Regions from separate parts of the Homo sapiens genome. Here regions 2, 3, 4, 5 and 6 are each linked to region 1. The links come from fine-mapping of genetic effects on gene expression. A gene starts in region 1. Each other region holds a variant in brackets. All regions are shown on one strand. Distances are from middle to middle.

Region 1 (5,076 bases):
ATTAGAAATAACAATAAAACCCCTTACATTTTTATAGAGTCTTACAATTTATGTAGCACATTAAATGTACTTTCCTTTTCAATTTGATTCTGATTCTAACCATTGCCCTGGTGAGTAATAATTATCCCCATTTTAAATATAAGGGAAATGAAGCTTTCAAGAACTTGTTCAAGGTCAGCTAATAAGCAGTTAAGCCAGGAACTGAACCCATGTATCTCTAGCTCCAAGCTCAAGGTTTTTTCTTCCATGCAGGTCACACAAGATCCTGAGCCGAGCACTGGCAGCCAGACCTAAATAACTACTCTGTAGGGGTCTGAAATTAGTCAGAGTAGGTCATCCTTCTTGTTTTTATGAAGTCAGGACTCTCCCACACAGGGGTAGGTAACTAAAGACTTGGAGTGTGAGTTCTGGAAAGGTCTTCACAGATCTTACAACTGAACTAAGTATTAATTTTTCACATGGAGGAGTGATAATTAAATGCATCTTTACTATCTATGTGCCATGAACCCAGAATTCTCTTCTTTATTTTAGGAATTATCCTCCAAGGTATCCTGAGAAAGCCTTGAGCGTTCGGAGAAAGTCATCTGGAAGTCAACATATGATATGAAAATATCTATAGGCCACTATTGACAAATACAAGACTCTTCAGCACCAATGTGGTGCTACCACAGGCCTCTTTAGCTGCCTTCCACCTCCACCTATGTTCCAGACCTGTATACCCAACTGCTTATCTCCATCTGGACATTTCCTGGGCATATTCAACTTTAATATGCCTAAAGTGTTCATCACTGCCTTCTCCACAATCTGCTTCCCAAGCCCACTCCTTCTCTAGCTTACATGATTTTTATTAATGGCTCTACAAGGTACCTTCCCCTGCCTATCCCACTCAACACCTTATAATCACTCTCTATTCACTCATTCCTCCTTTACCACATTCACTTGGTCACCAAGTACTTCTGATTCTACTTCCTAAAATCCATTCCTTTTCCTCAGTTCCCACTGCCATTGTCTTAGCTGAGGTCTTAATTATCTCTGCTTCCCATCTCTCTAAGCCAGCCCCCATCTGGCCAATAATTCTTTTTCCAAACACAAATCTGACCGGATCCTTCCTCTGCTTAAAAACTCAAAAATGGCTTCCTATAGGAGGGAGTTCACCCTTCTCAGTCTAGCAGTGTAATTCCTATTACACGCTATTCCCTACCTGCCATTGACTTTGCATACCCTCTTTCCTTTGTTCAAAACACACTTTCCCTAGGAACTCCTAGTCATTTCCAAGACCCTGCTCATCCATCACTTCTGTGGTGTGGACTTCACAGATAATTCTGGGGAAGGATCTCCTGCCCTCTCCCCTGGATTAGTCAGTGCCCTGTAGCTACTGCTATTACAATGTATATTATCCTGAACTGCAGTTTATTTCTGTATCTGTCTCACTTACCAGACTGAAGCTCCTCAAAAACAGAAACCATCTCATTATCTTTGGACTCCAAGGCCCTGGTATACTGGCCTGCACACGGTAGGTTTGGCAAATGTTGAATGAATGTATGGAATGGATGCATCTCCCTCTTTGGTGAAATCAATAACTTAGTTTGTTGAGTGTTTATTATTCTCTTGGGTTTAGTCTTTAGGGAAGAGGACAGAAGTCATACTCATTTCACAGGCCAAATATTGACAATGCATGGAGGCCAAAGAAACTTTTGTTTTACAACGCATCTCTTTCCTAAAATTGTATCTGGGATGGGGACAGAGAGGCAGAATTTCAGACAAAAGGAAAGACTTGGTCAGATTTTCCTGTACAGCTGCCTCTCCAGCCCAGCACTGGGTGAAGGGCAGGCACATCAGACTAAGTGGTTGATGCAACTGAACCAGTTTAAAGGCTGGTAAGACGCTTGCAGAAGTCTTTAGATAGAACTTGCAAACCATTTGCAAAAGGGTTAGGAACAGGTTGCATCAATGCTATGTTTAAGTCCTGCTCTTTGTAACTCAAGGCTCTCCCATTATCTAACAGAACTTCAGAATGAGGGTTCCTTAAAATTAGCTTCAGGTCCTTATGAGCTGTAGCTGAGCAAATGAAATGCAACTGCTTTAGAAGGGAGGAGCTTCCAAGATGCTCCAGTGGTCTTTTCCTTCCCTTCCTCGTATAACGCAATCGGTGGCACAATCCCGCTAAGTAGCATGGCATGCTGGCTGCCGGTGTTCTGTTAAATTAGGGTGAGTGCTTGTCTGTGCTTCAGTTTCCCTTTCGGTTAGGCAGGACTGGTCTTCCCACTAGCTATCATCTATAGTTTACTTAACTCTATTATCATATGATGAATCCCGTAAAGCTCTTCAGAATGTTAGGGAAACAGGTCCTATTATGTCCCCCACTCTACCTTCATGGGTGGGATGGGGGGTCTGGGGGTGGGACCACTGAGAGTCAAAGAAGTTAGGAAGTAATCTGTGTCACAGCAAGCTCCCTGGAAACTCTCAGAATAGCAAACAGGTTTCCTCTCCGCCCCTGGCTCCACGCCATATTTTCGTTTTGGCTAGTTCCTTAGCTCCAGAGAAAATCTGGCTTCACCTAGAATGGTTTAGAAACACCTAAGCCCGCGATGCTTTCCGGAGGGTCTCAGGCCTTAGCTTTCTCAGTAAAAAACAGAATTTCCATGTGTCCCCTTCAAAGCGCTCCTACCGGCAGCTGGAGTAAGGTAACTCCACCGCCGACCTCCGAGGAGTTCATGTGGACTCAGCCCAGGCGCAGAGAGGAAGACTCCTGAGAGTCCTCGCGAAGGAGGGAAACACACCAGAACTAAAGTTGTGAAGGCGCAAGAGGCTACTTAGGAATAATTCCTTGTATCTCTGGGGCAGGTCTCATCCTTCTAAAGACAGGAGTGACTGGGCGTCTTCTTCCAAACAGAGGGCGCTTAAAAATGTATTTTTAAAAAACATAACAGAAAGTCCTGAAACTCACCTTTCGGTCCGCGGAAGGGCTTCCTGCAGGCCCAGGGAATCTCCTGGTTGCTGCCCCGTCTGACAGCGCCCCGGGCCCTGGAGGGAGGTGTGGGTTCCTTTTTGGTTGCCTCTGCACTCCCACCCCGAGCCAGGTCTGGCGTGTAGGGCCCCGGCGCCGGCCAAGGTCGTGGGAGCCGCCCGCCCCGCCCCGCCCCGCCCCGCTCCACCCCCGCGCGTACCTGCCGCTGCCGCCGAGGGCAGCGCCCTCTGTGTTCCCTGCCTTCCTACGGGCCGACGCCTGGCATAGTTGAGGTTTCGCTCCAACTCTGTCCTGCCCCTGATGTCACAGGCACAACTTCCTGAATCTGGCTCGCCGTTCCGCCCGCTCCAGGGGCTCGGCCCAGGCTTTCCACCCTGGGCCAGCCCACCTCGGGTGCCTCTGGCCTTGGGCGCACACGCCCCAGACGCGCCCTCCCTCCCCGTCTTCCCGCCGGTGGCTCCCCACTCCCCGCCCCCCGCCATTACGTGTCCTTGCCCCCTCAGTCCCGGAACACGCCTCCTTCAGGACACAGCGGCTGCGGAGCCAGCCCCGGTGTCTCTCACAGACGCACCAGTGTTCCAGGAATGGGACACAGAACTCCGGGCAAACCCGGCTTCAGGGAAAACAGCTGCCTAAATAGAGGGCCTTCCTGGAAGGGGTGGGAGGCGTTGGAGAGGGATACCATGCGGCAGGTTGGGTGAAGGCTCCGATGTCTTATCGGGACAAATGAGCATGACAGTCCCCTCTAGCCAACGCCGGTTGCTCCAAGGGGTGCAGGTGACATCTCAGAAGAGTCTTTGTCTCTGCTGCCTGGAGGCGCTAAGGAAAACTGCGCCCCAGGAGCTGTCTGTCACAAGCAAATGACGGAGGGGAAAGCTGACTTCAAAAAGTTCTCAGGGGTTCTTCCCTCTCATCCTCAGCTGCTCTCCATCTACTTTCTATTCAGATCTCTTGGCTCTAGTTCCGAGCACATGGGATGCTAGGAAATGAAAAGACCTGCGCCCCTTTGAATAGGGGACTCCAGACACAAAGCTCTGATGATTCAGAGCTTGTTCAGTGCCTCCAGGGATACTGTGGGTGGGAAAAGAGGGGGATGCCAGGACCTGGCTGTGGATCATTTCAGGGGCCTCCTCAGTGTCATCCTGGGAGGTCCTCCCTGACAAGGGCCTGAAATGCTGTTCCCTCGACTGTATTTGCCAGGTACACAGGTACCAGGTGCCAGGTGCTGAACCAGGACTTGCCCTCCATCGACTGTGCCTGAGTATGGGTGTCCTTTGGCTTCTCCAAGTGGGCATTAAAATGACTGCTGCAACCAACTGTCACAACTGAGATTCAAGAGATTCCTTTCTGTTTATTCAGGAGAAACCACGTGGCTCTGAGTTGAAAGGCCAAAGAGAAAACCCACCATCCAGCCTGAAACGCCAAAAATGGCTAGAAAAAGAGGAAAATAAGTTATTTATTTATTTATTTATTTATTTTTTACAGAGGAAGACTAGATTCACAAGCCGGGAGAAGCTCAAATCTGTAATGACACTTTGAGCCTGCAGTTGTCTACCTATGTACAATGTACCTATGTACCTATGTAGGTTCCTCTAAAACTCCTGGAGCCTAAGGCCAGAGTATAGAGTCTAACAGGGCCATGAGGAAGACAGGCCTGGGATGGATGATAGTAAGGCCTTGAATGCTGGCCTGAAAATTTGGGAATGGGGATCTCCTGCCTGGAGGTTTACACACAGTGTATCATTCAACCTTTCACAACACATTTATGAGAGGTAGTATTATCCTCATTGTACAGGTGAGGAAATTGTGGTTGAGAGGAAGCTAAGGAAGTTCCTCAAGGTCACATAGCTAATAAATGGTAGAGCCAGGTTTGAATCCAAGTGTTTCCAACCGCCGCTCCCCCTGACCCAGTGCATCCTTTTACCACCATATCATCTAGTAGAGGAGGAACTTGCCTTCTGTGAAGGAATTCCACACTTGAGCAGGGATCATGTACAGGTCTTGAATGACGCCTATTGCGGGGAGGCCATAGAAAATACTTTCCTGAAAGTCTGGAGCAACATTACAGATTGGTTCTGGCCAGGGTGATGGGTATGTAGGGTTGCTTT
Region 2 (5,076 bases), 34 kb before region 1:
CGTCCTGTGCTAAATGCTTTGTACACACGATCATTTAATGCTCCCTATGAGGTAGCTACTCTCATTAGCTTTATTTAGCAGGTAAGTCTTACAGAGAGATTAAGCCATGGGTCCAAATTACATAACTAGTGAGAGTCGGAGTTAGCATCAGGGTTGGGACAACCCTAGTCATGAGTCCTAGCTCACTGCACTTATGGCTTCCAGAGAGCCCTGATGGTTTCTGAATCGTCCCCATCATCCTGTCTGCCTGCATCACTACTCCAGGGTGCACTTGCCTTTGTAGACTGTGCAGCTGGGGCCCTCCTTTCTCAGTTTCTTCCTGTGCAAGTCTCTAGACACCTCCTAGGCGATCTCCCCCGGCCTGTCCTGAAGCCAGCCTGGGAGCTTCCCTCTAAGGAAGCAATGGCCACACTGTCTTGTCATGGTTTGCTTGTCTGTGCCCCCCTACCAGGTTCTGAGCCCCTCTAGGACAACTTAGTATCACTGGCACCTAGCGTGCTTGGCATATAGTAAACAGTCAGAAATGTTAATGGGATGAACAGCCTCAAAAGAGGGCTGGAGGTACACAGTCACAGCCATTCCTGAAGAAATATAGTGTGACATTGCCCACACAGGTGTTTGAAAACAACCCTTTGAGTCTAAGACAGAAAGCGGGTTGAAGGGATTTTTTTCCAGTCCAGTAAACCTGTGACTTTGAATTGGGAAATACTACTAAGGTCAACGGGCAAGGGGCCAGTGCAGAGTGCTGTGATAAACTGAGAATGCTAAGGACGTGATGGCATTCATTGTCCAAATCCATATTATACCCCAAGGCCAGGATGGAGCCGGGGCAGGTGCGGCTGCAGGCATTGAGCACTGGCATCCCCTCAGGGGTGCAGCAGCTGCTCCCCTCCCAGATGGTTTCTGAGCATCAGTTCCTCCTCTGCACCAGAATGTTTAGCAATGTCCTGGGTGGATGAACAAGGAGCTGAATGAAGAGTCTCTGTTCTCTGGTTGTCATGAGTGTGTGGTGATGGGGAAGGGAGCCCAGGAATGAACTCATCTGAACTACAGACATAACCTGCCTTGGGCGAGATAAGGCAAAGAGTCCACCTGTGCTCTAGGCCTTCCTTCTTAAGCCCTCCTTGAAATCCAGTCAGCATGGCTGTTTTTCCCAGGTGTCTGACCCTGCCCCCAAGATCATAGACCTATGCTGTCCAGGATGGCAGCCGCTAGCCACGTGTAGCTACTGAGCACTTGAATCGTGGCTGGCATGGCCAAGCGCAGTTGCCCATGCCTATAATCCCAGCACTTTGGGAAGCTGGCGGGTCACTTGAGGCCAGGAGTTCAAGACCAGCCTGGCCAGTATGGTGAAACCCCATCTTTACTAAAATATAAAAAAAATTAGCTGGGCATGGTGGCACATGCCTGTCATCCCAGCTACTCAGGTGGCTGAAGCATGAGAATTACTTGAACTCGGGAGGTGTAAGTTGCAGTGAGCCAAGATCATACCACTGTATTCCAGCCTGGATGACAGAGCAAGACTCCATCTCAAAAAAAAAAAAAAAAAAAAAAGAAAAAAGAAATATGGCAGACATAGCTGAGCTAGTATACCTTTAATTTTATTTCATTGCAATGAATTTAAATAGTCACATGTGGCTATTGGTACCATATTGAACCATATTGAACAGTGTACACACACTTACACACACACATACACACAGTTTTTGCCCTAGTGGCTACTATAGAGGTTTTTGATCCCTCCTTTCCCAACAAACACTGGATTTAACTCAAAGGTCCATTCTTCCTTAGGTTTTTGCTATTTCCCCCCTTTTCCTTTAAGAAGCCATTGATGGACCTCATTGATGGAAAGTTCTGTAAGTGTTGCCAAGGAACATCAGTATATTTTTCCTGTAGCTGGCACCTTTGAGGGAGTCTGGTCTCCAAGGCCATCTGTTTTGCAAGCAAGGGTGAGACAGCCACATTCCTCATCCTCAGACCTATGACTCTACCATGGCGAAGGCGGTGACCAGGGAGGGCTGGGACATTTGTGTCACAGAAAGAGTCCCTGCATTGATCATTTCTGAGTGATGTCTGAGTGGGGGTAATACCTAATGTTAAGA[G/A]AGTAACCATCTGACTACATCAAGACTTTTCATTTTCAAAGTATTTTATTTAAATAAATTTTTCTTTTGTGTGTGTTTGAATTTTACAGAAAAAAATACTGACAAATACTATACAGCTTGGACCCTTTATATTTTTCTTGGAAAGGTGGCTGCCATTTTTCTACCTTTCTCCCTCCCTGCTCCCCCCAAGAAAAAGAAACATGGAATCCATTGAGCAATGGGGAAAGGAGCAATGGGGAAAGGCCTCCTCTGGCTGCCGTCCGGAGCCTGGCTAAAGCTGCTCAGAAGTCCAGGCCTAGGGGATGTCTTTCTCGAGCCTGTGCTGGTCTAGGAAGCCTCTTCTTTAGGAATCATTTTTTTGTCCCCCGTGAACTTACCCTCCCCAGATGAGTCAAGCAGTCTCTGGTCCTGAGGTCCCATGGGTTGCCAGTGGCAGTTCAGGGACAGAGGCTGGAAGGAGTGAAAATGGAGAGGAATAAAGGGCTGGGGCTGGTCTGGTGCAGGCAGAAGAGGGAATCAGAGAAGCATAAAACATGGAGAAAAAGATGAGAAGGAAGTGGAAAGAAGAGAGTGGATATCAACAATGGCCTTAGGCTCCTTTCATGCACCTGTTTATTTAACAAAACGTTTAGGGCCTATCCTGCACTGGGACTCCTCTAGTTACGCCAGGAAAGGTTGTCAGGGGAGTCTGTGATGGGGAAAAGAGAGGCCCCATTCTGGGTTTGGCTCTTCTGAGTCATCGGCTGTGGAAGTGACTGAGAAGTGAGTTTCTGGGTGTTTCATCCCTGGGGTGAGAGCAAGTCCATTGGATTAGGAGACAGCAGGGACATTGTGCCTGGAGATAGAGGCCTTGTCATGGCAATGACAACTGACTGCTGTCTTAATTCAAAGGAGCAAGCAGTTGCCATGGAAACCATGTTACTTGTATGGTCCCGGATCCCGGTGATCCGCCCTCCTAGATCATATCTGACACTACGTCTCAGCTGTCAGCCTCCACCTCTCCCCAGCCATCCATTCTAGGGGGACTGAGAGGTGGAGACAGGAAGGGCAGCTTGTCCTGGTGAGCAGTGGCAGTTGTGGGGAGATGTCTTCCACATCCCTGGGTTTGGTGCAGGCAGATGGCAAGTCATTCTGTTATGTGAAGGGCACAGCCAGAGGCCCCATGACAAACTCTCTATGTGACAAGGGGATAGAGAACCAGAGTGCTTCTTTCTCTGGTCAAAGGGGTTGATGAGTGGGAGGCCTGAGTGCTTAGGCAGTTTATGGCCATATAGGGTGAGAGGGCAAATGTGACTGGCTATAAAATATATGCAGGTTTAAATTATGATTCACAGGGTCATCTGTTAGAAAACCCTGGTGCAAGGGTCACCACTAAATGCCCACCCTCCACAGGCCTAAAGTACACCTGGAGGGCAGGTGAGTACCAAGCAGCCCAAGTGAGCAAATAGAATATATCTTTCCTTTAATGCAATCTTATAGAATTTAGTTTTTTGCTACTATAAATATCATAGTTTAGCTACATTATTAATTAGATAGCAATTTTGCCACTGTGTAGAATAGCTTCCTTGGGAAAATATTTCAAGAGAGCTGCCCAGCATATTTGTAAATAAACTTCTAGAGCATAACTTGCTCCCAAGGAGTGAATTGTCCATCTTTGTAATACAGTCACAATACAATAAAAATACCAAGCAGTTCATCCTATAAGTGGATTAACTCTGCTTCCCAACCTCACTCTGGCGGGGAAAGCCCTCCTCAGCTCACTGTGGATCTAATTTACATGTCCTCACATACCTCAAGGCACATGTGTCACCTACATGTGCTCTCCAGCATTAAACACCCAATTTCATCCATTGCAGCAATTAGTGGGCTCACTTAGAAGAGAAGATCACTCGGGGAGAACTGGTGAGGTATTACAAGCTTACCCTTAACAACATCACATATCCAACAGTAACCACAGTTAGTTATAAGTACCTACTGTGTGCAAGGCACTTGCCTGAGCTTCAATATAAATATAAATAAACCTCTTTATAGCTTCATCCTACTTTCATTTAAACTCTGTTACCTCTGCATCCCACCTGTGCCATACCGTGCACACATCACAACCTTATGACATCACTTCCAGTGTTGCCTTCTGTGAGACTGCACTGATGATTGTCTAGTTCCTTCCCTGCTGGAAACTTTGGTTATATAGGAGATACCTAGCTCAGGTGTAGCATCTCCTCACCCTTTCCATCTGTAAACATTGCACAGGTACACAGTTGCAGTCCACTGACATAAATGAGTGGGCTTCCATAATTTTCTAGCAGTCACCACCAAGAGCTCTTTGTTCTTGCTTGGAGAAAGGCACTTTGCTGAGTGGTTTGCGGGGGTAATGTTTCACAGAGAGGTCTTGGATCACATTAAACACCTCTCAGTGGCAATGAGGACGGACTTTGTCATGAGTTACAAGAAAAGAGCTTTCAATGAATTTTGAACCATCACACTTTAAACATCTTGGCACAGGTGAGGGGTCAGAGGCACAGAAACTTGGTGTGTCTGTATCAAGACACACAAGGGTGGGGACTGTAGCAGGTTGCTGGAATGTCCAATTATGAGTACTTCCAGTAAAAGTTTATGTGTAGAGTTAGAAATAGGAAAGCATGCATCTGTAACCTGAGTGGTTTATGGAATAGATGGTGTATGGGGGCCTTGCTGGTTAGGAAATTGTATATATGTGTCTGAATCTGGCAAGGCTTTCCCATGAGACATTTTTGTGACTGTAGATAATGTACTTCCCTGCACAAAGTACATAGCCAATGACCATTTGATGAGCAGAATATACTTGCCCACGTACCTGCTACCTGAATTTGTGTGTGTGTGTGTTACGTGCATGTGCACACACTTGGGAACCATATTGAGATGTATGGATAAATGTTCTTTGTGCTTTGCATGTGGGGTATGCCAGAGACAGGTGGGAGGCATGCCTGGGTCTGCA
Region 3 (5,076 bases), 74 kb after region 1:
TGAAACATTTTAAAAATCTGCTAACATACATCTTTTATTAGGAAGCTAGTGGAGGGTGTGATCCACCAAAATGAGGGAGTAATACCATGTAAGAGAAAACTGTGCAATCCAGGAAACAAAGGATCAAACAACAGAGAGAGTTGAGTGGCATCCCCATAATGATGGTGAGCAGACTTAACAAGATGAACAGTCTTGTAATATAGTTGGACAGCTGGAAGCTCAGGATGGAGCTGGTTAGAAGGCTTCAGGATGGTTTCCTCAAGAAACAGAAATTGATAGAAAATTGATAGGATACCTAATATACCAAGAGGGATTATACAATTGGTGGAAATGTGAATGAAGACCATGAGTCTACCCCTAGACATAGAGCTTTCAATCAGCTGAATTACTGGTAAGTATACAGAAAAAACTAAAGGTGCATTCATAAAAATCTAAGCAAATAAACAAAAGACAACTAACTTCAAGGAAACCAGAAAGTTTTGCAAGAAAGGAAAAGTCATTATAGTACATTACATGGCTCAGTTACAAAACATGTTTACATAGTCATCATAATATAAGCAAGTAATATTTATGCTACCAAAATTCTAAATTACAAGTAGGGTGGAGGGATGGAAAGTGTATGCTGGAAACAGGGATGTATGTGAGAGAGAACATCCTATCCTCATCTTCTACAGTAGAAAATCAATAGGTTACATCTAATAATGGAAAAATCAGGAAGTAGTAATATAGTGATGGTCTTTATCAAGATAGGTAACACAGGGGAGAGGAATTATGAGGGCTGTAATAAGATGTATTGTTGAATTGGGGGTTTTGAGATATCTGTGAAACAACCAAGTGGAGATGTCTGCTAGGCAGTTGGCTTTATGGGTCCAGTGCCAATCAGCTTGAAGAAGGGTTCTTGGAAGGAATTAAGTCCTACATAAAATTATTTGCATGACTATTTTTCTCAATTATTTCCCAGAATGATTGATAACTACTCACATTCTAAATACATAGGAGAGAAGTCCATTAATGATATACAAGTCATACCTAAGGGCACTAGAGCTTAATGTCCTTGCAAAAGCAACTGAGAAGGGCTGATCGGTACTGTGGGAAATAGAGATTTGAACTCATTGTCTGTCTTGTCTGGGGAGTAGATGAAACTGGAAGAGGGCCAAGGATAACTGCTAGGGGACACTAACAGTTTAGAGATGGGCAGGGCAAGAAGCAACTACAAAGAGACTAAGGAGTAATAAGAAATACTCGAGAACATGGCATCTAGAAGATACAGAAGGGATTTTGAAAGAGAAGGTACATAGGAGGCGCCAACAGATGCAGAGAAGTTACATGAAGTAAGGACTATAAGGGGGCTATTGATTTTTACCTATAAGGAAGTTGTGAGTGACCTTAGTTGAAGCAGTTCACTGGAGTAGGTGGTATTCAGAAGCCAGATTTCAGTGTACTTGGAACCCAGCAATCAGTCAGCCGAAACTAGCTGTTTCTTAATGCCCATCTCTGAACCAAAGCTAACATTTCATTCATATTCCAAGTCACATCTAGGAGGGAACCGTGTTTTCACCCAGGAGACCACTTAGACACACAACATTGGGTTTCCACAACAACTTTATGAGAACATTTCTAGGGATTCAGGGACCCTGGCCAATCTTATTATTGCATTCTTTAGATTGTTATTTTTATGTTTTTTTTTCTTTTTTGTGAAAGCTGACATGGGATGAGTCCTAAACTGACCAGGGGAAGAGTGTGTTGTATTACCTTGTTGTTTAAGTAATCTCTCAACATGGGCCAAGAACTACTGCTAGAAAAGTAAGAGCTTCCCTGTAATAGAACAGGTGCTATTCATCTGTCACTGAAACTTCAGGTGGTATGACCTTACTACTCCAAATATCTGTCATTATTTATCATTTATTCATTTATTCAAATACAGTAGTCTCCCCTTTATCCACCAGGGATAAGTCCCAAAGCTCCCAATGGATGCCTAAAACTGTGGATAGAACAGACTTTTATATATACAATGTTTATTTTCCTGTACATGCATGCCTATGATAAAGTTAAATTTATAAATTAGTCACAGTAAGAGATTAACAACAACAATAATAAAATAGGACAATTATAACAATATGACAGCATCACTACTCTTGCACTTTGGGGCCATTATAAGTAAAATAAGAATGACCTAAACACAAGCACTGTGATACTGAGATAGCTAATCTTATCACTGAGACGGCTACTAAGTGGACTAATGGTCAGGTACTATATACAGTGTAGATACACTGGACAAAGGGAGGACTCATGTCCTGGGTGGGATGGAGGGAGACAGGGCTAGATTCCATCCCTCTACTCAGAACGCCACGTGATTTAAAACTTATGAATTGTCATTTTCTGGGATTTTCCATTTAATATTTTCAGATCATAGGTAATACTAAAGTCATGGAAAGCAAAACTGCAGAGAAGGGAAGACTATTTTATTTACAGTATCCTAGGAGTTATAGAGATAAAACATGGAGCAAATATGAATCATGCTCTCAAGAAGTTTATAGCAAAGGGATGGTTCATGAGCCCAAGTAGCACTGGTACAAGGTAAAAAGGACTAGAGGACCTTCTTCTTCTGGAGGGTCTTCTATCCAAATCAGCCATACACAGGAGGACTAAAGTGGGGTGGGGTCTCCTATGAAGTGTATTAATGGTTTTGCCTTGACGTTGTCCCCCATCTGATCTAAGTGTTACCTCAGTTTTTCCAAAGTGGTATGGGTTGTGAACTCTCAACCTACAGGACTGCTTTCAAATTGTGTAGCTGTGCCTCATATGCAAATAGAGGGTGAATTGGAGGCTCCATCTGAAGCTTGTTTTTGGAGTTTGTTATAAAGCTCCCTCTTCAAAGGATAG[C/CA]AAACAAACAAACAAACAAACTGTTTTTCCTACTGTCCACTCTCACATTTAATACAACACAGCACCTCTGTTTATCAAAATGTGTGGGGATTTCTCCGCACATACAACGAAGCAATTCTGTAGTAGATTGTCCAGTAGAACCCAGGTGGGTGTCCTACAGTTTAACTAAATTCTGATTATCTACCTGGAGATAGCGTCAGATCTCACAGGTTGAGGGCTCAGTCCCACAAGACTGCCCCCACCCTTGAGATACTAGCATGGTCTGTGCTTCTAATCACCTGGCTATCAATGGGGATTCCCATAATCCCCTCTTTGAGTTGGTAGAGTGGCTCACAGAACTCAAGGAAACACTTTACTTATGTTACCCATTTATTATAAAGAGTATTACAAGGGATACAGAAAAACAGCTAGTAGAGAGATGCACAGGGCAAAGTTTAGAAGAAGGGGCACTGAACATTGCTCCCAGGCCGTCTCTTGGTGTGCCACCCTCCAAGAAGCTTCATGTGTTCAGCTATCCTGAAGATTTCTGAAACCAGTCCTTTTGGATTTTTATGTAGGTTTCATTAAGTAGGCATGATTGATTAGATCATTGGCCATTGGTCACCAATTCAACCTTCAGTGTTCCCTCCTCTTCCCAGAGATTAGGGGGACCCAACTTTCTAATTAGGCCATGGTCTTTCGGGTGACTAACCCCCATCCTGAAGCTCTCAAGGTGCCCCCATCTACCAGGCATCTCAGCATACAAAAGACACTCATCACACCAGAGATTTCCAAGGGTTTTAGGAGATGAATGTCAGGAAATAGGATGAAGACCAAATATGTATTACAAAATAGCATACTTCCTACAAAGGAATTATAAACTGGGGTGCATGGGTAAGGTGATACTCCTGAGCTGCTGGGTGCTCAAAGAGTGTATCAAAATTTAAACAAGGAACCTCAACACTTGTAACTGAAAGACCCAGATCTTACTTATCTTTGGCTATGAAGTCAAATCAGATTTACAGTAATACTCCAAATATCAATGCTCAGAGCCTAAACATCCTTGACAGGCAGAGATCCCTTTGCTTCCAGGAGTTTCTCTTCCTAAATATTTCTGGGGCTGCTCTCACAGATGTTTGTGCATCTCAAATGTTCCCTTGGTTTCCTGGGGTTATGCTAGGTTGGGATCTGTGGGGGGCCAGCAGTTTCTCACAGTTGTCAGCAGAGCCTCTGCCAGCAGCTCTGACTTCCACAGCCATTGGTCAGCCAGGGATGCTGTGTATTCTTCCAGCTGGCCTGATGGCTTTAGGATGCTTCTCCCTCTGCGTCCATGGGGGAATGCCTTTCTCTGCTAATCAGCTCTTTCTGGAGTGTTTTGCAGAGCACAGCTGTTGAACTTCAGTGACACAGTCTCTCCTTTGCCCTACAGCCCATGCCTTCCCAGAGTGGACAGCTCAGCTAAGAGGAGTTTGGTTGGGTGATGTCAGACTCCACATCACACTCCCCTGGAACATTCACTCCTCCAAATCCCAGACCTATTCTACCACTAAGCTCACTTATATGTTTGTTTTGTTCTTGGCCATTAGGCATAGCAGGGCTGTTATTGGGTAGCCACTTTAGAGTCCTTTAATATTTCTGGGCAGTTAAGATGCTCCCTAAAACATGCTCAAGGAATCCCAAGAATTTCTTGAAGAAAGTGTTGCCTAATTTCACAACACTGACCTAGCCAGCTGTGTGTAGGGGTGGGGGGAGGTTAGGATAGGAGGCATATTTTTAATTTAAGTGTGAGAAAACTAATAAAATTATCTTTAAAAATGTAAACATGTATATTAATGCCTAGAAGGGTTACTTGGGGCAAGGGTGGTGAAGTGGGCATACAAAACCAAAAAAACACGTGAAGTTTTGATTGTAACTTTCAAACCTGAGCCATTGCCAGCAGTGGTAGCTCCACAGGTTTGAGGCAGCTTGGCTCATTAAATAACATGTTATTATAATGTTTGCTGGAGAGTCTCAGCTATTTGTAGATTAGTTTCTGAAAATTCATTTTGCCTTAACATTTGTACTAGACAGAGGAGGTGGAATGTATGTGTTGTAGGAGGTTGAGAGAGCAAAGTCTAACTGAATATGAAGTAAGGAAGTTGGGGAGGATAAAAAATATTTTGGGAAACTGGACATTTGTCATTCTTTTTGGCTGACTACTCAACTCTTCTCCTT
Region 4 (5,076 bases), 63 kb before region 1:
GGGTAGTTTCCCAGTGACAGGCATTGGGGCCCATCCAGCATTTCAGGCAACTTTCCAGGCGGGCCAAGTCACCCTGGTTTCTTTGTGCATGGCCCTTTCAGATCTGTGGCCCTCTTATCTTTCCACATCCTTTTGGGAGCCCTGCCATCTCTGAGGATCTATCTGCCAATCTAGGCTGTTAATATCCACCACTTTGTGGGAACCTGCCTGGGAAATGGGGGCCCAGATTCCTTTCCTCTGGGACCCACCCAACGCCCTGTTCTTCTTGTCTCTAATGGGTCTGTACTTGTAGAAACAAAGGTCAGAAAGGCCCTGTGGCAGGGAGGAAGAGAGCCTGCAAACTGCTTGAAAGAAGGAGGAGAAATGGGAGGGTTTGAAAAGGGGAAAATATAAACTGATGTCTCAAAAATTACCTTGCCTCAGTTGTATCTTAGTAATAACAATTACCTGACTTTCTACGTACAGAACTCGACCCTCCCAGAAACCTTCGTCCATCTGCTGTAACGCAGTCTGGTGGCATATTGACCTGGACGCCCCCCTCTGCTCAGATCCACGGCTACATTCTGACTTACCAGTTCCCAGATGGCACAGTTAAGGTACGGGGATTCCTTGTCTTTTCTCCTGGTGCCTTCTCTTCTGTGTGAAGCAACTAACTTGGGCCAATCAGCTCATTTGCTGGCCTCACGGCAACTTGCTGATCTTTACTGATCACATTGCTGGTTGTACATCTGCCCCGGGTTATTTTGTTTATTGTTAGTCTTCCCCAATAAATGTAAGCTCTATGTTTGTCTGTTTCATTTATCACCATATCTAAAGTGCATAGGACAGTGCTTAGCACATGGTAGGTGTTCGATATATATTTATTGAACAAATTGATTAACCCTTATTTCAAGGGTTATACCTCCCCTTAGAATCTGAAGGCCAGCAAATTTTCAAAACCTGTCCCAATGGAAAATTATTATTCTCCCTCCTTGCCAATGAAGAAAGAAGGGAGGAAATAAAAACAGGAAGGACACTTAGGTTTATGTGTTACCTTAATTAGTGCTTATGACAGCACAGCTAGGAAGGTTAGCCCTATGTTTATAGAGGAAGTAAGACTGGTTCAGAAGGAAGTTTATTGAAATATCAACTATCTCCTTGTCTCAGATATCAGTGGCCAGTTTCACCTCCCCTATTAATTTCTCCTTAGCGCGGCATTGCCAGCCTGTTCCTGCTGGCAATGTAGCCACTATAGTTAGAGCCCCTGTGTGTATCTGAAGGCCAAAGTCTCCCAGAAACTTGGCCGGTGATCCTGAAGCTGCAGTCCTGGGTGCTGGTTCTCAGCTGATGCTCCCAGTAGTGCTGACTCTCCATGGCATGGCTCTCCAGAGAAGTGGCTGGGACCCACTGCGATTCTGGGCTGCCACTGAGGCTTCGGAGAGACAAAACACTGTGCTCTCAGAGAGCTTCTGTCATTAGCACCAGGGAACGCTGTTGACACCTAGGGTGCTAGTGGGTGATAAACTGAGTCACTGGCTGTCTAATCTCTCCCTTGTTTGGTAGGAGATGCAGCTGGGACGGGAAGACCAGAGGTTTGCGTTGCAAGGCCTTGAGCAAGGCGCCACCTACCCTGTCTCCCTTGTTGCCTTTAAGGGTGGTCGCCGGAGCAGAAATGTATCCACCACCCTCTCCACAGGTAATATGGAATCCTGTACTCTGAACGACCGTGCAATGAGAACCAGCACCGGAAAGCCTAGCAAAGGAGTCCAGGGAGGAGCAAGTGGATGCAGAACTATTGATTTCTCTAGGCATGGGGAAGTGGAAATGGGGTTGTGTGTTCAAAAGAAATCCACCCCACAGTGGGGAGGCTAAAGAGAGGAGTGAAATAGAGTGTTACTTTGTGAGGGAGCTGAGTTGGGGGAGGAAGTGATGTGAACTTGACCTTTTCCTGGTGCATTTGGGGAGTTGATGAGAAAAATAAGATATGAGTGAAGAGTTGGAAGAAGCTGAAGTAGGAAGTTATGAAATAATTTCCAAACAAAATAAATTGCCTTAAAATAGGAAGAAACTCCACCTCTTTCCTCCTTGCCCTTGTCCTAACAACACTCTCTCTGCTTGGCTCCCAGTTGGTGCCCGTTTCCCACACCCTTCGGACTGCAGTCAGGTTCAGCAGAACAGCAATGCCGCCAGTGGTCTGTACACCATCTACCTGCATGGCGATGCCAGCCGGCCCCTGCAGGTGTACTGTGACATGGAAACGGACGGAGGTGGCTGGATTGTGAGTCACGCAGAACCCTGGGGAGCTCTGTGTAGGGCCTTCCTTCTCAGCCCAGGATGCC[G/A]GTCATGGATGCTCCATAGAGTGTTTGGAGCCCTATTTCTTCTCCACCCATGGAAGAGAGGAGTTTTGGTGGCTTGTAGCTGTTTTTAGAGAGATCCCAATGTTACAGGAAAGGGGTCCCCATCCAGATCCCAAGAGAAGGTTCTTGGATCTCATGTAAGAAAGAATTCAGGGTGAGTCCACAATGCAAAGCAAAAGCAAGTTTATTAAGAAAGTAAAGTGGTGAAAGTACAGCTACTCCATAGACAGAGTAGGGCGTTTCTGAAAGTAAGGAGGAATGCATGCACCCTATGTACAAGACTTGTTTATATATAGGATAAAAAAAGATCATGAGGGGATGTGCTCTATTACAATGGTTCGTGATAAAGGATTAATTTTCTTAATTACTATATTTTGCGAGAATCAATATTATTATATTTAAAGCAACATTAGGAGTGCTTCTGTTCTCAAGATATCAGGACATTCCTAAGTCTGGGTCTGTTTAGTAAACACTGTCAATCTGTTCCCTTAACCATAAACATCTGGAGGCTAGGAATACCTAACTTTCTGGGAATGCAGCCCAGCAAGTCCCAGCCTCATTGTCTTAGCACTCACTCAAGATGGCTCTGGTTCAAATGCCTCTGACACCAATCAACTGTAAGGATAGAGCCTAGTACTTAACCACTGTCCTAGAACAGGCTTGGTTAGACTAAGGCTGATGACTATGAAGGCTTGTGAGTTGATCATCATCTAGTAATGCCTTATATGTATGTATTACCTATATTTTACCTTCTTCAAAGCACTTCTGTACACATGACCCTCACACAACAGCTTTAGAGTAAGTGAGAGAGGATTGTTTTTCTTATTTTACAGATAGGGACAGTGAGTCCCACAGAAAGAAGTGCCTGGCCTAAGTCATACAAGAATGACAAAGCTGGGACCAGATTTCAAAACTCCAGCCTCCTAATCATTGGTCTTCTCAGTGAGTTCATCTCAGGTCATCCAAGATGCGAATGCATAGCCTGACTGGGGAGTTCAGACCTCTGAACTGGAGTCCATTGTCCAAGTTCTGTACCCTGTCTCCACAGTACAGCAACAAGGCCTTTGAGGTTTTGATTGGAAAGACTAAAGTCTGAAAGACGGAAACTTGGGCAATGCTCTAATTGTCCCTCTTCTGTGTAGATGTTTTATTCTCTTGGGCCATTGTCTGCCTAAACCACATGGCAGCTTCTTTGATTGCATCAGCCTGATCCAATTATATGATAAGCTGTTTTTGAGGGTTGCAATCTGATCCTTCCATCTCCCCTTGCCCCTTTTCTCCCTGTGCCTGAATGATAAAGACTCTCACTGCTCCAAGCCAGCATGCAGCCTTAACCTGCTGTGCATCCGCAACTCACTGTGGGAAAGAGAGAGCATGATCTCATAGTGCTCAAACCTTATTCATTTACACATTCACTCAGGGGCCTGGGAAACCAAAGACACTTGAGCAGCCATGAATAAAAAGATACCATCTGATGAGCAGCAATGAAGAAAACTTATTATCTGCACAGCGACATCTGACGGTTGAAAGGCAGTAATTGGATTGGCTGGGGGAAATTCCCGATTGATTTATAAAAACAACAGAGCAGAATGTAACATGGGAGGTCTTCCACCTGACCAGACCCATAGGGCTGTACCTGCTGCTTTTCATCAGCACCATTGTAAGGCTAAGCATTCTGTCCCTTCAGGCCTGCAGCCCAATTTCCTGCCTTTGTGCCTGTAATTGACTTTTGGCAGGACGTTTGTATTGTCTAGTGTGGCCTTTTTGTAAGCCAAGCTCCCACACAGAAGGAGTTATCTGGGGCAACATTTAGAAAGAGATCTGTCAGTCTGTCTGCCCTGGAATAGTCATGACTTATTGCACATATATTTATTGAGTGCCTACTATGTGTCGGCACTGCTTCATGTACTCAAGATCCAGCAGTGAACCAAACCAACAGAAATCCCTGCCCCCAAGGAGCTTGCCATTTACATCCTGCTCATGCAAATGACCCCTCCTCAAACACAGAGATCGGTTCCAAAAATAATAAAACCACTGTGCATTCTCACCCTCCCCAGCCCCAACCCCACCCCAAGTCTTGTTTTCTGAGCCAGACTCCTGGGGGTCATGCATGAACTGAGGTTCTGCAGGGTTTTACTTAAAGCCACCATGCTCCAGAAAACATGGAGTCCTGAAAACTTCCCCACAAAACATTTTACTGACAGTTGTTACAGTTTTTTTGGGGGGGTTCAAGAGTCCTTTGTCACTGAAGGATGACCCATGGTCTGTTTCTCTGTTTTATTGAGCTTTCAAAATCCTTTTATGGTAATTCTTCCATCCCAAGCAACAGGAACTCAATCTGAAGAATAGGCCAGAAGAACTGTGCCCTGAGGTAAACTCTGCCGCTGGTGGGAGGCTGGAAAGAACATCAGGGAACACTTAATGTTTCAAATATTTCCATCTTTGTTTTCCATCTTGAAAGTCTTAATGCATTAGAGGCTCTTTCCACAGACATTTCAATGCAAGTTTGACTTTTTTTCTCTGTATTTAGTCATTCAGGGCATTGAGTAAGTTCTAGAATGCAATGACAACTCTAGTATAGAACCAGACACAAAGAGGTTTCTTTTGTTTGTTTGTTTTTCTCCCTTTGAAACTTATTTGGTAAGGGGGTTTTGTGATACCCAAATAGTTCATTATAGGGTGTTTTCATCTCATAGAATGGGAGTGGATTAGACTCTGAGTGAGTCAATTAAGGCTGCCT
Region 5 (5,076 bases), 41 kb after region 1:
TTGAGACCTAGATCTTCTTGAAGACCCGACTTCCTCTGCAGCCTCCACCAATAGAGGCTACTCATTGTACATTCCATGCATCCTCCACCCCTGAAAAAGTTGCTGTTTTCCTAACTCACACCTCCACCTCCAGATCAGCACTCATTAATCTTCTGATGGAAGCTTTTTTTTCTTCTAAGTCTTATCACTCACTCATATCGTGTTCTTTCCTCCTGGTCACTGACATCAGCCTATGTCCTGGTTAGTTCCTGTATTAGTCAGGGTTTTTTTAGAGGGACAGAACTAATAGGACATATATATATATATATATATATATATATATATATATATATATACTTAATAAACTCCCCTTTATATATATATACACACACACATATATGTATAATAGAGTATATATAATGAACTTCCCTATATAAACACACATATTCACACACATATATATACACACACACATATACATGTGTATGTATATGTGTGTGTGTTTGTGTATATATACACATATATGTATGTATACACACATATGTATGTATACACACATATGTATGTATACACACATATGTATGTATACACATATATGTATGTATACACACATGTATGTATGTATACACATATATGTATACACACATGTATGTATGTATACACATATATGTATGTATGTATACACACATATATGTATGTACATACACATATATGCGTGTATATATACACATATATGTATGTATATACACATATATGTATGTATACATATATGTATGTATGTATATACATATATGTATGTATATATACACATATATGTATGTATATACACATATATACATGTATGTATATATACACACATGTATATATACACACATGTATATATATGTATGTGTATATATACACACGTATATATGTATGTGTATATACACACATGTATATATACATGTATGTGTATATACACACATGTATATATACACATGTATGTGTATATACACACATGTATATACACATGTATGTGTATATATACACACATGTATATATACATGTATGTGTATATATACACACACATGTATATATACATGTATGTGTATATATACATATGTGTATATATACACATATATGTATATATACATGTGTGTATATACACACATATGTATATATACATATATGTGTATATATATACACATACACACATATACATACACATGTACATGTACATCTATATACATATATGGGAGTTTATTAAGTATTAACTTACACGATCACAAGGTCCCACAATAGGCTGTCTGCAAGCTGAGGAACAAGGACCCACAATAGGCCGTCTGTAAGCTGAGGAGCAAGGAGAGCCAGTCCAAGTCCCAAAACTGAAGAACCTGGAGTCCAATGTTCGAGGGCAGGAAGCATCCAGCACAGAGAAAGATGTAGGCTGGGAGGCTAGGCCTGTCTCTCCTTTTCACGTTTTTCTGTCTACTTTATATTTGCTGGCAGCTGATTAGATTGGGCCCACCAGATTAAGGGTGGGTCTGCCTTCCGTAGCCCACTGACATGAATGTTAATATCTTTTGGCAACACCCTCACAGACACACCCAGGATCAATACTTTGTATCCTTCAGTCCAATCAAGTTCACACTCAGTATTAACTATCACAGTTCCCTTCCTTAATTGATGATTTTGGGATGTCTGTCAGTCATTGTCCCCATTTATTTTGGACACAGTCCCAGGATATTTTAACATTTGTCAGACAATCCAACAACCCAGTCTCCAAACTGCTAGACATTGTTGACTCAAGTGTATTATATTTCTTTCCTCATCAACCAACGTCTGCTTGGGCAGTACTCCAGGATCCTGCCGTCTGATCCCAATGTCCAGTCCTTAAAATATTCTTCCATTACACTTTGACCTCATATGCACTTCCTGTCCCTTGATCACTCCATTTTCCTCACATTTTATTAACACCTTTCTGACTACTTTTTTTCTGTATGCAACCTAGATCCCATGGGTTATACAGATATCTGAATCACTCTTCTGCAAGCATCTTTGATTCTTTTTCATCCTTTTGCTTCTGTTATA[C/A]CACCTAGTAAAATTCCAAACTAGAATCAATAGTACTATTACTCCCTGTCTCCTTTGTTCTGTACCTGTGAAGAGAGAGAGGAATATACTGGAAAAATAATTGTGTAGTCGTACGGGTTGGCGTTGATGTGCTAAAAATTTCATGGTCTCCCATTTTAGCTTGTCCCTTAGCCCTGCCTCTCAATCTTTCATCTTTAATTAACACTTTCTCTCATTTCCTTCAATGACTTTCATATCTTCATTTTTTCAATCCTCATACTCAACCCCTATTTCTTCACTCTCAGCAGAAAATCAAGAAAAATCAATGAAATTAAGCATAATTTCTACCCCTGAATATAAACTTTTCCACATTTACCTCAACTGTGATAGATATTTACCCATAGTTATGCCCACCCTTTTTCCTTGATAACAGAACCTTGATTTGGTTTAGGTATCTGGTACTCATGTTCTTCAGGGAGACCAGTCTCTTGCCTAGCCCCAGTGGATTGATCATAATTAGCCTAGCCCAAAACTATGATTACTTCATTTCCCTTGCCAGCACTTGGTTTAGACATGTGAAAAAATTCTGGCCATTGAATGGAAGTCTGTTGAGGGATGCTGGGAGTGTTTTTCTCTCTCAAAAAATGGAGCCCAAAAAAGAGCTCTTTATCCCTGTTTTGTTCTGAATGTAGACTGGAGCTACTGCAGTGGTCTGTTTACCATGACGGGAGTAGCTGATGTGTTGAGAGTGCTGGATAGAAACAAGGAAAGAAACTGAGTCCTTGATGATATTGTTAAGCCATCAAATTAGCCAACCCTACCTGTAACCCTCCCACTCTTTGACTTTTTGATAAATAAAATAATAAAGTTGTCTTATTCTTTAAACTTTATGTGGTTGGTTGGATTTTCTATTGCTTGCAAGCAAAATCATTCTAAATATTACACTGCCCCTTTTTTCCAGTCCCTAAAGTCACTCTCCTCTTTTAAAGGTCAATCTCTTCACCTGTGCTCTTAATCCTGTTGCTTATTGTTTTTTAAAAGGACTTTTTACATCATTCATCCCCCTTCCATCCTGTATCTTCTACCTTTCCTTCTCTAAGTCTGTTGACTTACTTATGTTCTCCAATGTTAAAAGCTTCCCTTGAATCACATCTTCTAGTTCTCAACAAACCTCTCTTCTCCCCTTGTCATACAAATTTTTTGGAGTCCATTGTAATTCTCATCTCTACTTCTTCACTTCCCATTTCTTCTCAATTCACTGAATTTGGCTTCTGGTTCCATCATTCCATCAAAATGGTCAAGTTATAGTTATTAATGAGGACTTGAGAAGATCATGGCAGACGGGAGGTAGGACTAGATTGCAGCTCCGGAGACAGCAGCATGCGGAGGCTTGCATTGTACATTTTAGCTCCAGATCGACTGCAAGAACAAACCAGCAATCCTGAGAGGACCCACAGACCCTCTGAAGGAAGCGGACTGCTACTGCAGGACTTGGGAGAGACCCCAAATACTGTGAGTGCCCCAACTGCAGAAGTGGGAAAGGGAGACCCTCCTCTCCCAAACACACACACACCCACTGGAGAATTTGAAGGTCTGTTTGCAGGAGATGTCCCTGACTTTACTTGGAACTGAGTCAAGTTAGAGAGCTGAGCCTAGCAAAATACAGGGGTGGAGGAGGCAGCAGGGAGGCCCTGAGAGCTCACTGAATCCCCAAGCAGCCCATTCCTGCCTGACACTACAGGGATCCATCAGGAGGGAGGCCAGAAGGGCAGGGGGTAAAACCTCACAAGGAGAAGGACTTCCCTAGCTGAACTTTGTAACAATCTGGCCAGAACTTGGGGGAGGGTGCAAATCCTGCTTGCAGACTTCACAGACTGAGGAAGAACTAAAGCCCTTTTCTTTCACAAATGGGAGGCAGAAAGTCTGGGGCAAGTTTTCAAGTGTGCCCTCTGCCTGGAAACAGATTCGAGGCTGTGGTGGGGGGCATGTTGGGAGTGAGACCAGCCCTTTGGTTTGTGTGGGAGCTGGGTGAGGCCTGTGACTGCTGGCCTTCCCCCACTTCCATGAAAACCTGCATGACTCAGCAGAGGCAGCAATAATCCTCCTAGGTACAAAACTCTAGTGACCTGGGAATCTCATTCCATCCCCCACAGTAGCTGCAGCAAGGCCTGTCCTAGAAGAGTCTGAGATCAGACACACCTACCCCTGCACGCACCTGATGGTCCTTCCCTACCTATCCTGGTAGAGGAAGACAAAGGACCTATAATCTTGGGAGTTCTTGGGCCCCGCCTACTGCCAGTCCCTCTCCACACTACTACAGCTGATGCCCTCTGCAAAATGCCACCTCCTGACAGAAGGCCAACCAGCACAAAAATAGAGCATTAAACCACCAAAGCTAAGAACCTTCACAGAGTCCACTAACACCCTCTGCCACCTCCACTGGAACAGGCACTGGTATCCACAGCTGAGAGACCCATAGATGGTTCACATCACAGGGCTCTGTGCAGAAATCCCCAGTACCAGCCTGGAGCTGGGTAGACTTGCCGGGTGGCTAGACCCAGAAGAGAGGCAACAATCACTGCAGTTTGGCTCACAGGAAGCCACAACTGCAGGAAAAGGGGGAGAGTACTACTTCAAGAGAGCACCTCGTGGGACAAAAAAATCTGAACAACAGCCTTCAGCCCTAGACCTTCCTTCTGACACAGTCTACCCAAATGGGAAGGAACCAGAAAACCAATCCTGGTAATATGACAAAACAAGGCTCATCAACATGCCCCTCAAATCACACTACTTCACCAGCAATGAATCCAAACCAAGAAGAAATACCTGATTTACCTGAAAAAGAATTCAGGAGTTTAGTTATTAAGCTAATCAGGGAGAGACCAGAGAAAGGTGAAGCCCAAAGCAAGGAAACCCAAAAAATGATACAAGAATTGAAGGGAGAAATATTCAAGGGAATAGATAGCTTAAAGAAAAAACAATAAAAAAATTCAGGAAACTTTGAACACACTTTTAGAAATGTGAAATGCTCTGGAAAGTCTCAGCAAT
Region 6 (5,076 bases), 120 kb after region 1:
CAGAGTTCTATACACCATCATTATAACTTCCTCATCCACATGTTTGGTTCTGTCCATTTAATTCCTAAATATCTCTTGAGGATATATATTTTCCCAGCTCTACTAAAACCACCTGAGTTCAACTTATCCTAATTTCTCATCTGAACCATTCCTGATTTCCCCCCAAATCTTGTGTACCCCTTCACCATTTACACAATAGCCACAGCCAACTCTCTTAAATGCAAACATGATCATCTCACTCTCCTGCTTGGGCACCTCCGATGGCTTCCCACCACTATTTTTTTTTGTTTGTTTGTTTGAGATGGAGTCTCACTCTGTCGTCAGGCTGGAATGCAGTGGTGCAATCTCAGCTCACTGCAACCTTCGCCTCCCGGGTTCAAGCAATTCCTGTGCCTCAGCCTCCTGAGTAGCTGGGATTACAGGTGTGTGCCCCCATGCCTGGCTAATTTTTTGTATTTTAGTACAGACAGGGTTTCACCATGTTGGCCAGGGTGGTCTCGATCTCCTGACCTTGTGATCCACCTGCCTCGGCCTCCCAAAGTGCTTGGATTACAGGCATGAGCCATCGTGCCCAGCCCCACCACTCTTATAATCGATGAAGATTCAAGCATGGCTTGCAGGGCCCTGTCTGATTAGGTCCTGCCGTCCTTCCCAGCTGCACCTGTGTTACCCATCCCCACCCATCTGTGCTTCAGCCACTCTGGTTCTTCATCATGGCCTGCTCCTCACCTTCACTTGGAAAGGCAGTTATTCTTTATACCATTTTACAGATAAGGACACTGAGCTTCAAAGTGACAAAAGGACTTACCCCAGGGCACACAACCAGTAAGAGGCAGAGTGTGTTCTGGAATCTTTATTGAATGAATGAATGCTTGCATGCATGAATGAACAAGTGAATGGTACAGTAAACAAAGGCCCTAGGTCAGGAGTACTTAGGTGGCTCAGTGGAGATGCATTGAAGGACATGGTCACCTGTTAGGACCTGCCAGGGCTCTCTTCGGCAGTGTGTGCCTTACTATGTGTGAGGAGGTGCTGTCTTGCTTTCAGTGTGTAAATATCATGCCTTGATGGAGAAACTGCAGCAGAGAGGCCCCGCTGCCCCAGCACATCTGTCACAGCCCACACAACACCTCCAGAGTGAGAGCAACAAATTCAACGAACTGCCAAGTTGTCTGTACCACCTGGGTGCAAGCAGGAGTGAGTGTGAATGTGATAGTTTCTGTTCCTTTTCTTTTTATAGGTTGGGAGCTGGGAGAGGTGAATGATTTTCAAGGTGGCTATGAGCCTTTTGCTCTTTTATATTGCCAGGCAGAATCAGGGCTAGGATGTGACAGGCTGTTCCCCCAATCCCAGGCCGCCGGGGTGAGGCTGGGGGACAGAGAGTTCCCAGCTCCTAGCTCACAGTCAGTGGGGTGGAGTGGGGGACCTTCTCTGATAGCCCACACTTCTGTCAGTGGGAAGTTTTGGATTTGTTCTAAGGGGCAGAAGCAGATATTCCTTCCTATGTGGGGCTATTGTGCAAAGTTTGGGGGCAAAGCCGGGTGGAGAAATGTGGGTATTTAGAATAATGGCTGCCTTTTCAAATGAAAACTCTTTAAACATTTGTTTCATATCTATGTAGAACTGGGGCTAAGACTGTAGTTACAAGGGGGATATGAGGAAGGTGCTGATGGCAGTGCTCTGCCTCTCTGTCCCTTGGGTCCCAGGCAGCCCACTCAACACAACAGAAATCCACAATCCTTAGGAGCTACTCAAAAGCCCCCTCCTAGAAGTTATCATCTATACTAGTAAAGCATGCCCTTTGCTGGGCTAACTCGAGAACCCAGCAGGCCTCTCAACTAGTGTCGTGGTCTCCTGGGAAGAGTTTTGAAAAATACAAGGGCTCATAGTGAGGTGCCCTCAACCCACACATCTGAAGGATTGCCATTAACTACCTGTTTGTAATGGCTGCTGAGGGCCTGGGGCAGCACAGGTGGTGGAGGAATGGACCGGAACCTGACTACTGTCCTTAGAGAGCTTGTGGCTCTGAAACATACCGGGCTGGCTTTTGCACACAGCCTGGTCTTCTTCACCATTCTTCCCCAGCAGAGTCGTTGTGGGGCTGGCCTCAGATGTGGAGGTTTTGTCCCACTCCTGCGTCCTCTGTTCCCTTCGGCTCCAACCCCACCCTTGTCCCCTTTCTGCTCTCAGGTGTCTATCAGCTGACCCTTGATAGCAGGTTGATGCTCTTATTTTGCCCAGAGCATTTCTTTAAGGCAATAAGTTGTTTTGGAGAACCAGGTGAGTGAAATTTCAGGCCATAACACTGTTATGAAGATAATAAGGCTGCTTTTCAACACCTTTTAACTTCTACCAAGTTAACACATTCTCAAGTTGTAAGAACATCTGCTGTAAAGCATTTTTCTGCCCATTTTATAGTTTGCCCTTCACAATAGTCTGTGAAGTAGGAAGGACATTATTCTTAATCCCATTTTACAGATATACGGACACTAAGCTCCTGAGTGACAGAAGGACTTATCCTAGGGCACACTACCAGTAAGAGGCAGAAAGAGGTTGACTACTGATATGGTGTGACTCTGTATCTGCACCCAAATCTTACCTTGAATTGTAATCCTCATCATCCCCACGTGTAAAGGGCAGAACCAGGTGGAGGTAATTGGATCACGGGGGAGTCTCCCTCATGCTGTTTTTGTGATAGTGAGTGAGTTCTCACAAGATCGGATGGTTTTATGTCTAGCATTTCCTTTGCTTTCACTCACTCTGTCCTTCCGCCCTGTGAAGAAGGTGCTTGCTTCTCCTTTGCCTTCCATCATGATCGTAAGTTTCCTGAGGCCTCCCTAGCAATGCGGAACTGAGTCAATTAAACCTGTTTCCTTTATAAATTACCCAGTCTCAGGTATTTCCTCATAGCAGTGTGAGAACAAACTTATGCAACTATATAGGTCTTTTGA[C/T]GTCAAATACAATGTTCTTTCCTCTGCTCCTCAGATAATCTTAATATTTGCTCTTCTTGAATATTTTATGGATCTGTCCTAAATTTTACAGTACTAAAAGCTGTTAATTGAGTTTCTTTCATAGACGGAAGATACGGTTGATTCAATTCAGTTTACATCAATTCTATACTGAGTCCAAAGAGAGTTCTGGGCTAAATACTGGAAATAGAAATGGAAAGCCAAGGCTCTTCCCTTAAAGAGTTCACAGATGATGGGAATTCTCTTCTCACCGGTGCTTTCCCAATTGCTTCCCAATCCTCTCCAGCCCTTTGGAAAGAAAATAAACCCTTTACTCCGCCAAGCTGGAGGTCTTTCCTCCTCAGGGTGTTTTTGTCTTGGAAGAGAAATAAATGGTTCTGCAAATCTGGTAGTGGGTTGCAGCCAGGCTCTAATAGGAGAGACCTGTTTGGGGATGCTTCACTGGCTCTCGATCTGAAAGAAGACCCTGTGATAAACAGGATCATGACGGAGAGCAGCATACCTCCTTTAGCACCAAGAGGTGAACTTCGAATTGTCCTTCTTTGCTGTGAGCTCTGTGGTAAGGTCCACCCTTGCAGGAAGGGACTTTATCAGCGTTTCTTGAGAGACTGAACTGATCTGTCTGTCTGGCCAAGAGAAGTAGATGTGAGGACCATTGATGCCAGTCACATTCACATGTTGACCCGATCCCAGGTGACCTTCACAACTAACATGCCATTACAGAGACCTACTGTGGTGACTACATTTGTTTAAAACAAAACTGGACCATGTAGCCCAACAGTCATGGCCAGGACAATTGGAAAGAAAAATCAGCATTGAAACATCTCTGAAAAAGCTAGAGGTGAACATCTGCCCCCACCCTCCCCTGCCCCTAGTCGCTTCCTTTCTGTGTACTGGATTTCTTATCTGGGAGGATGAATTGGGTAAAGGGGTTTAGCTGAGGGTGTTTTCCTCTGCCACAAGCTGAGACTACAGCTGGTTAGCCCTTTGCTTTCCCTAACATCATGGAACACTCCCTTAGGCATGCGACTTAGATATTCACATTCTCCTGGGGAGCTTGGGTGGTGATACTGCCCTTCCTTGCTCTGTTGACTGCAATCCTGGACCTGAATATCATTCTTAGGTAGAATTGTGGCACAAAATCTTCTCTTCCTTCTATCTTTAGTGCCTAATTACCCTGTATTTCTTTCTTCTTAAGAAACCTTTAGGACATATGAGATTGTGAGGTATTTGGGGATCTTAAACAATCGATACCATTTATTATTGTCCATCAGGTGAAGCAACAGAGCCAAAGGTCTAATTTACAAGTGACTCTTGGTTTGAAATCTAAATGATTCCTAGGGAGCCATGACAAACTGAACCATTGTAAGACAAACTCTCATTTTCTGTAAGTGTCATTTTATCAATTCCACTTTCTACCTTGGAATCTAATCTCATACCACAAAAATACCCAGAGTAATTCCGACAAAATGAAACTAAAATAAAACACAGATATAAGCTTTTCAAACATTTATAAACTATATAAAGACAAATTCAATAGAAAAGCTATAACAATGTTCCATTTGGGCGATCCTTTTGTCTTTTGGGCTGAAATGAACCAGCCTGAAGCTTTTTGAAATTTGCTTCCATGAAGTCTGGATTGAAGTTATCTCTTCTTTCTGTGATAAATCTCCCTGTAACAGTGGCTCTCAACTGAGGGTGATTTTTTTTCCCCCAGAGGACATTTGGCAATGTCTGGAGACATTTTTGGTTGTTACAACATGGTGGGAGGCGGGGGTCCTACTGGAATTTAGTGGGTAAAAGCACAGGGCAGGTCCCTAAAACAAAGAATTATCTGACCAAAATGTCAATAGTACTGCTGTATTGAAACACTGCTTTGTAGCGTGGACATTTCAAACCGAGTTAACATTAGGTCATTTCGTTGAAAGATAAAACCAGATTTATGTGAATATGTCTCAATTTCTTTAAATGGTACTGGTTGGGGGTTGGGGAGGATAGGAGGGCAGGCCGTTCCACATTGACTTCTTTAATCATCTCTTGCTTTTCCAAGTCAATAAATCAACTGGGTTACCTTTAATTGCAACCCAGGTTGTTATTGTTGTTGCCA

Direction of the effects. Alleles are on the strand shown, and positions count from the first base shown. SD is a standard deviation of normalised expression in the study named. Not every link is listed here.
As copies of G replace A in region 2, the expression in neutrophils of the gene that starts at base 3,084 in region 1 goes up (moderate effect, 0.70 SD a copy in CEDAR).
For the expression in visceral fat of the gene that starts at base 3,084 in region 1, C is the low allele of the variant in region 3 and CA is the other (small effect, 0.16 SD a copy in GTEx).
In carriers of allele A in region 5, the expression in skeletal muscle of the gene that starts at base 3,084 in region 1 tends to be lower than with C alone (moderate effect, 0.60 SD a copy in FUSION).

The links. PIP is the estimated chance that this variant, and not a neighbour inherited with it, causes the effect.
Region 2: its variant is fine-mapped to the expression of KIAA0040 in neutrophils (CEDAR, PIP 0.94). The same link has a PIP of 0.9 or more in aorta.
Region 3: its variant is fine-mapped to the expression of KIAA0040 in visceral fat (GTEx, PIP 0.91).
Region 4: its variant is fine-mapped to the expression of KIAA0040 in whole blood (TOPMed, PIP above 0.99).
Region 5: its variant is fine-mapped to the expression of KIAA0040 in skeletal muscle (FUSION, PIP 0.95).
Region 6: its variant is fine-mapped to the expression of KIAA0040 in whole blood (INTERVAL, PIP 0.92).

The regions. Positions count from the first base shown.
Region 1 is chr1:175,189,693-175,194,768 of GRCh38, forward strand. It overlaps KIAA0040, which reads right to left and starts at 3,084. Exons shown (of 4, transcript NM_014656.3): 1 at 2,948-3,084. RefSeq lists enhancers at 2,287-2,336, 2,477-2,526, 2,767-2,916, 3,637-3,746.
Region 2 is chr1:175,155,406-175,160,481 of GRCh38, forward strand. KIAA0040 reads right to left here. Exons shown (of 4, transcript NM_014656.3): 4 at 1,581-5,076. Among named protein-coding and RNA genes, the nearest start is that of KIAA0040, 35 kb to the right of the region's middle. The variant G/A (reference allele first, on the strand shown) is at 2,103.
Region 3 is chr1:175,263,687-175,268,762 of GRCh38, forward strand. No RefSeq gene overlaps it. Among named protein-coding and RNA genes, the nearest start is that of KIAA0040, 73 kb to the left of the region's middle. The variant C/CA (reference allele first, on the strand shown) is at 2,884.
Region 4 is chr1:175,126,490-175,131,565 of GRCh38, forward strand. TNN (tenascin N) reads left to right here. Exons shown (of 19, transcript NM_022093.2): 13 at 466-596; 14 at 1,543-1,675; 15 at 2,106-2,257. Among named protein-coding and RNA genes, the nearest start is that of TNN, 61 kb to the left of the region's middle. RefSeq lists enhancers at 2,787-3,695, 3,696-4,602. The variant G/A (reference allele first, on the strand shown) is at 2,319.
Region 5 is chr1:175,230,717-175,235,792 of GRCh38, forward strand. No RefSeq gene overlaps it. Among named protein-coding and RNA genes, the nearest start is that of KIAA0040, 40 kb to the left of the region's middle. The variant C/A (reference allele first, on the strand shown) is at 2,050.
Region 6 is chr1:175,306,216-175,311,291 of GRCh38, forward strand. All of the region lies in intron 1 of LOC105371623 (a long non-coding RNA gene), which reads left to right. Among named protein-coding and RNA genes, the nearest start is that of KIAA0040, 120 kb to the left of the region's middle. The variant C/T (reference allele first, on the strand shown) is at 2,952.